2 linked regions of the Homo sapiens genome follow. The protein of the gene in region 1 interacts with the protein of each later gene in a biochemical or structural test. Each region holds a gene or a part of one and is shown on either strand. Other genes may lie near its edges.

Evidence for each region. Proteins that work in one complex are often made in the same cells at the same time.
Region 2: the proteins of AKT2 (region 1) and CLIP3 form a complex in vitro, tested with the Homo sapiens proteins (one study listed by BioGRID).

Annotation. Positions count from the first base shown.
Region 1 is NC_000019.10:40,229,703-40,233,377, forward strand, and holds the end of AKT2 (RAC-beta serine/threonine-protein kinase), read right to left. Parts: 3' UTR 615-3,675; downstream 1-614. UniProt on the Homo sapiens protein: Serine/threonine kinase closely related to AKT1 and AKT3. All 3 enzymes, AKT1, AKT2 and AKT3, are collectively known as AKT kinase.
Region 2 is NC_000019.10:36,019,241-36,022,986, reverse strand, and holds part of CLIP3 (CAP-Gly domain-containing linker protein 3), read left to right. Parts: intron 1-3,602; exon of another isoform or gene 3,603-3,680; coding exon 3,681-3,746. UniProt on the Homo sapiens protein: Functions as a cytoplasmic linker protein. Involved in TGN-endosome dynamics. May modulate the cellular compartmentalization of AKT kinase family and promote its cell membrane localization, thereby playing a role in glucose transport in adipocytes.

The sequences.
Region 1 (3,675 bases):
CAGAGGGAAAGTGCCATTCTATCACATTAAAGGGACACTGTGAAGGTGATTCATCAGCAGTGTTTGCCTCGATTGGCTGGATGATGTAGTGTTTGCCAGGGACCTTCACTGAAAAGTTACTTTTCCCCCTCTCCACACTGCACTCTTTGGAGGAGTCACTGCAGCCCACGCCTAAGAAGTGGGGGTTCCATAGCCCTCCTTGAAGGCTGTCTACAGAAATTACTTATGATTTTGTGTAGATTTGCATATTCTCCCCATTTTGCCACTTAGCAATAGACTTATTTCACATTTTAGGTGAAAACCCAATATTATGCTATTTATTTTGTTGTTCAAATTCTTTTCAGCTTTGGCCACTGGAAGCTTTCTGTTGGCTCCTGTGTCCCTGTGACTTAAGCATATCAGTGCGTGCTTTCAGGCACTGCAAGATGCCCCAGGCTCATCTTGTACATTTCCTGCCCCAGGCCTGGAATAATCTTAGTACAGCACTATTTTTGAAAGTTTTCTGCAAGTCTGCAATTATTTCAAAATTTAAAGTATCTGAATGGCTACACTTTTTTGGAAAGGTACTGGACATTAAAATCCTGGGATGTAGACAAACAAAAGCACCAGCACAGTACAGATGGATAGCTAGTTTATTACAGGACTGCTGGTAGCACCAAACGAAACCAAGTCAATTCCTGTTAACGGGGCAGCTGAAGCGGTTGAGGGGTCTACCCCATGGAACCCCAGGAAGCAGCTGGAAAGCCTGAGTTCCCCCCATGCAGCAGCTAAAAGGGAATCGCACTGCCGCCCCCGACTCCACACAACCATCAGTGCACGAGGGCAGCCCCCAGAGGCTTCACATTAACTGGAAAAGATTACACAAAAAGAGCAGGAAACTACCAATTTATGATGCCGTGTCCATTTGCAGAGAGGTAATCAGCACCAAAATGAGTACTCAAGGCCCTGCGACCTCGGGTGAATTTCCTTTCTTATACTCCTGCTTTGCTGTCTTTTTTAATAGCATGTATCATGTTTTTTTTTTTTTTATTTTTAGAGACACAGTCTCATTGTCCCAGGCTGCAGTGCAGTGCCGCAATCATAGCTCACTGCAGCCTCAAACTCCTGGGCTCAAGTGATCTTCCCACCTCACCTCAGCCTTCCAAGTTAGCTGGGATTGCAGGCATGCACCACCATGCCCAGCTAATTTTTGTATTTTTTGTAGAGATGAAGGTCTCCCTATGATGCCCAGGCTGGTCTCGAACCCCTGGCCTCAAGAGACCCGCCCGCCTCGGCCTCCCAAATTGCTGGGATTACAGGCATGAGCCACTGTGCCCAGTCACTGTTCTTTATATACAAAAAAGAATGTGTGAAATTTTTAAAATGTACATTGCAAAAGACGATTATTCTACTCAAAATTTATTTGGTAAGATTTTATTAAGACTCTAAGTTCAAACACCCTTCTTGGGAAAAGCTCTACAGGATAACCACACATGCTCAACTACGGGGCCAGCTGCTGCAGCTGTGGGACCCCATCCTGTGGAAGAGGAGAGAGGCACTAAAAAGATGAGGTAGCCAGGCCTGTGCCCACACTACGAGACCTGCATCACCATGGTGTGAGGAGCAGCAACGTGGGTCAACTCGGGGCTGGGACGAGATGGAAGAGTAAAAGGCCTTTCTTCATAGGCCTGCCTATTTTATGACCACCAGGGTAGACTTTTGTAATTAAATTAAGGTCCACATGACTTTAGAAAGACAAACTAAAAAACCCCAACCAAACGAGTCCTAGCTGTAGCTAACTCTGATTTCTGTAAATTGGATCTGACTTTTTCTGCTTACATTCACTTAAAATCTCAAAGACTCAATGGGTGTGAAGTGCTAACACCTTGCGGCAAAATCTCAAATTCATCTGTGCCAGGCCCTCTGCACAGCAGGGCTCAGCAGGGCAGGCCAGGGCTCTGGTCCCTGGTCCCTTGCTGGGGGAGGTGTTCCATCCGGCCAGCGCCCGGCCATGCAGCCACGTGACTCAAGCACGGGAAGTGCAGGGGCCCAGACACATCCAGGCTAAAGGGCAGTGACTAGGGGAGGGCTGACCCCAAGCTGAACAGGGTTCTAACCAAACGCTCAGGAGCTCCCAGGTGACAGCAACCACGCCACCATGAACACACCACTGGGTCTGTACTGGAATTTGGGGGCCTCAAGGCTTCCAGGTGGCAGCATAAACAGGGAGGTGGGGCAGGATAGGAATGCCCCCCTCTGAGGCTCGGCAGCCGGGTGGAATGAACCACTCCCTCTCATTCAGTGACAGCACAGGCACCCTCCTCATTCTGGGCTACCCAGATCTTCCAGCCCTGTCCCTCCACCCCACCTCTCTTAGCCTAAGCAGCACTGAGGGCCTGGAGTGGTCTCTGTCCACCCCACCCCCACATGCGGGGAGCCTTCCCATACCCCTCAGCCCCACAGCACCAGCTCCACCCACCCTCTCCAGCCTGAGCTCCTGCACACACCCCAGCTGCCCTCACCCTGAGCTCAGTGCCCTCCTTGCTGAAGGGAACGGCTAGTACAGGAGGAGCTGGGGCCCAGGGGTCTGACTCCATCACCAAGGCAAAGCCCAGAGTGGTTGGGCTGGCGTGAGTGCAGGCTGGGCCCTGGTCTGAAATGAGTGTCTTTATTGCTTGTACCGTACAAATATGAAGACGAGGAGAAAGGCCAGTAGGGACGGAGAACTGTCAGATAACAACATCGCACACAGAGGAAAAAGACCCTCACCCACCCGAACCAACCCCACCCCTCCCCACCCTGCCATGAACTGTGTAGTACAGGAGATGGGATAGGGAGAGCAAACCCACAAAAGCTAAACTCCAAACACCCAGAGGTGTTGCTACAGGGAGGGGAGGCGTGGGCAGGGCAGCTCATGGATCACAGTGGGGCTCCTCCCACTAGGTCAGCACCCCTCCCCCACAGGATGAAATGCTCGGGCCAGGGATGGGGCCCAAGCCCACACACCATGCACACTGGAGGACACGCTGCCCTCACACAAACACACATGCACACACACCCACGTGTGCCTGCGTCCCGCCGACACACGCAGTCCGAGGCACGCACAGGAGTCCCACAGCACTGACATGGACGTGCACTCATGTTCAACCTTAAGGCTGCAGAACGTGGGGCCCTGGGGAGAGGGAGGGGTGAGGGGGGCCTAGGAGCCTCCCTTTTCAGAGGCCCCCCACCCCAATAGGTACCAGAGATGCCCACCCCCACCCCTCCCTGACCAAGTCCATGGGGCCCAATACTGTCCGGTGTAAGATTGTAACAGCCAAGGCTGGTGGCCCTCCACCCCCGCAGAGGAGAGGGTGAGCCCAGCCCATAGCCCCCAGTGGGGCCAGGCCAGGCCCAGGGTCCAGCGGGAGGTAAGGCCAGCTGGAAGGAAGCCCTAGTAAGGCACGGGGCTGGGAGGCAGGCAGGTTTGGCCCCAAATGTTCCTCCTGCCTCATCCATAGGGTGAGGACAGTTTGGTGGGGAGGAGGCCGGACCAGGAGGCGGCACCCAGCCCGGCCACTCCTGGTTCCCCATGGTACAGATCCTAGGATCTGACTCCATTCACCAGGGAGCAGCCCTAACCCCCAGCCCTGCAGCTCCCAAGGGCCCCTGCCTGCCCCTGGACATTATTGCTTTTCTGCCCCCATAGGGGGACAG
Region 2 (3,746 bases), 4.2 Mb from region 1:
GCCTCCTGGGTTCATGCCATTCTCCTGCCTCAGCCTCCCGAGTAGCTGGGACTACAGGTGCCCACCACCATGCCTGGCTAATTATTTGTATTTTTAGTAGAGAGAGGGTGTCACTGTGTTAGCCAGGATGGTCTTGATCTCCTGACCTCGTGATCCGCCCGCCTCAGCCTCCCAAAGTGCTGGGATTACAGGCGTGAGCCACCGCGCCTGGCCTTTTATTTTTATTTTTAGTAGCAACGGGTTTCACCATATTGGCCAGGCTGGTCTCAAACTCCTGCCCTCAAGCGATTCGCCCGCCTTGGCTCCCAAAGTGCTGGGATTACAGGCATAAGCCACTGCGCCCGGCCCCATCCAGAAAGCATTCTGCTGTGCACGATCTAATCATATCCATTGCACAATTCAGAAGGAAGGTTGGGTTGACTCTTCCCATTTTACAAGCCAGACTATAAGAGGCTCCAACAGGTGAAAACCTTTATCTGAAGACACGGAATACTAATCACTGCCCCTTAGAGAAGCAGCATAGCACAGCGTCATGAACTCAGGCTCAGGGACTTGCCCAGGTAAATCTCAGCTTTGCAACTTCCCACCTGTGGACCTGGAGCCAGTGATTCTGCCTCTTTGGGTGTCAATGTCTTCATCCGTAAATGGAGATAATAATAGTAACCACCTTAGGGGGCTGGTTGAGGTTTAAATTAATTAAAATGCGTAAGGCCATTAGAACAGAGTCCAGCGCATACTAAATGCTCTTTGTGTGTGCCAGGCACTGTTCTAGTCCCTCCACCAACACTCTTAAGATCAGCACTAATTGTCGGGGCGCGGTGCCTCACGCCTGTAATCCCAGCACTTTGGGAGGCAGAGGTGGGCGGATCACGAGGTCAGGAGATCGAGACCATCCTGGCTAACCCGGTGAAACCTCGTCTCTACAAAAAAAATACAAAAAATTAGCCAGGCATGGTGGCAGGTGCCTGTAGTCCCAGCTACTCAGGAGGCTGAGGCAGGAGAATGGCATGAACCCAGGAGGCGGAGCTTGCAGTGAGCCAAGATCATGCCACTGCACTCCAGCCTGGGCCAAAGTGTGAGACTCCGTCTCCAAAAAAAAATAAATAAATAAAAATAAAAAAAGATCAGCACTAATTAATTAGCCTATTATATGGACCAGGAACTGAGGCATGGAGAGGTGAATGAGCCTCCCATAATGATAATAACCACACTCACTAAAGTCTCACTGCAGCTAAGCAAGTTTACATGTGTTAAAAATGTTTCCGCCAAATGTGGTGGCTCATGCCTGTAATCCCAGCACTTTGGGAGGCTGAGGCAGAAGGATCGCTTGAGCCCAGGAATTCGAGACCAGCCTGGGCAACATAGTGAGACCTCATCTCTACTAAAAATGAAAAAATTAACCAGGCATGGTGGCACACACCTATAGTCCTAGCTACTTGGGAGGCTGAAGTGAGAGGATCGCTTGAGCCCAGGAGTTCAAGACCAGCCTGGGCAATCAACATGGTGAGACCTCATCTCTACTAATAATGAAAAAATTAATCAGGCATGGTGGCGCACACCTGTAGTCCTAGCTACTTGGGAGGCTGAAGTGAGAGGATCACTTGTGCCCAGGAGTTTGAGGCTGCACTGTGCCAGGGTCGTGCCACTGCACCCCTGGCATGGGCAACAAAGTGAGACCCTGTCTAAAAAAAAAAAAAGTTTCCGCCAGATGATCACTCCATGAGGTGGCTTACTATCTCTATTTTACAGATGAAACTGAGGCTCAATAAGTCCCCTGACCAAAGTTACAGCATGATAATAGCTAACAGGCTGAGCACAGTGGCTTCACACCTGTAATCCCAGCACTTTGGGAGGCCAAGATGGGGAGGATCGCTTGAGGCCAGGAGTTTGAAACTAACCTGGGCAACATAGGGATACTCCATTTCTATTTTTAACAAAAGTTTGTTGTTGTTGTTGTTGTTTTAATTAGCCAGGCTTTGGTGGCGTTCACCTGTAGTCCCAGCTACTCGGGAGACTGAGGAGGGAAGATTGCTTGAACCCAGGAGTTCAAGGTTACACTGAGCTATGATTGCACCACTGCACTCCAGCCTGGGCCACAGAGTGAGACCCTGTCTCTAAAATAGAAAAAAAATTTCAATAACGAATACTTGCTGATCCTTTACTTAATACCAAGCCCTGTTCTGAGGGCTTTAATTTCTCTATAACAGCCCTGTCCAACAGAGCTTTCTGTAATGGTGGAAATATTCTGTCTGTGCTGTCCAGTAAAGTAGCTACAAGCTACATGTGACAATTGAGCACTTGAAATATGGCTAGTGTGACTGGGGAAATGCATTTTTAATTTAGTTTAAATGTATTGATTTGTATTTTTATTTATTTATATTTTTTCTTGAGACAGAGTCTTGCTCTGTTGCTCAGGCTGGAGTGCAGTGGTGCTATCTGGGCTCACTGCAACCCTCCTGGGTTCAAGCAATTCTCCTGCCTCAGCCTCCCGAGTAGCTGGGATTACAGGCGTGCACCATCATGCCTGGTTAATTTTTGTATTTTTAGTAGAGATGGGGGTTTCACCATGTTGGCCAGGCTGGTCTTGAACTCCTGACCTCAGGTGATCCTCCCACCTCGGCCTCCCAGAGTGCTAGGATTATAGGTGTGAGCCACCGCGCCCGGACTAAATTTATTTATTTTTAAATTTAAAAATCATCTGAGTCTTCTTTCTAAGGTATGTATTTATTTATTTTTGAGACAGGGTCTTGCTTGTTGCCCAGGCTGGAGTGCAGTGGCACCATCATAGCTCACTGCACCCTTGAACTCCTGGGCTCAAGCGATCCTCCCACCTCAGCCTCCCAAGTAACTGGGACAACAGGCTTGAGCTACTGCACCTGGTTACCTTTTTTCTTTCTTTTATAGAGAATAGGGTCTTGCTGTCTTTGTTTTTTGGAACAGATTAAGATTAGAGGGTCTCGCCATTTTCACCCAGGCTGGTCTGAAACTCCTGGCCTCAAGTGATCCTCCAGCCTTGGCATCCCAAAGTGTTGGGATTATAGGCATGAGCCACCACACCCGGCCTTAGTTTAAATTTAAATTGTTGGCCAGGCATGGTGGCTCATGCCTGTGATCCCAGCACTTTGGGAGGCCGAGGCGGGTGGATCACCTGAGGTCAGGAATTCGAGACCAGCCTGGCCAACATGGCGAAGCCCCGTCTCTACTAAAAATACAAAAATTAGCCAGGCGTGGTGGCATGCACCTGTAGTCCCAGCTACTTGGGAGGCTGAGATGGGAGAATTGCTTGAACCCAGGAAGTGGAATTTGCAGTGAGCCGAGATCGTGCCACTGCACTCGAGCCTGGCAACAGAGTGAGACGCTGTCTCGAAAAAAAAAAAAATAAATAAAATAAATAAATAAATAAATTTACATTGTCCTATGTGGCTAGTCACTATTCACTATATGAGACAGGGCAACTCTTTAACAATCCTATAAGGTGAGTATAATTTCTGTTCCCATTTCACAGCAAAGGAAGTTGAGGCACACAGAGGTTAAGTCATGTAGCCAGCAAATGGTGATGTGTGACCTGGGGTTTGGGCCCAGGGCGGCCTCATGCAACCCACCTTGCTGCCCGTGTGTGGGCACTCCACGTTGGCCTCCCAGCATTCCTTCCTTAGCCATCGCCTCCCTTCTCTCCCCAGACGGGCACACTGCGGTTCTGTGGGACCACGGAGTTTGCCAGCGGCCAGTGGGTGGGCGTGGAGCTG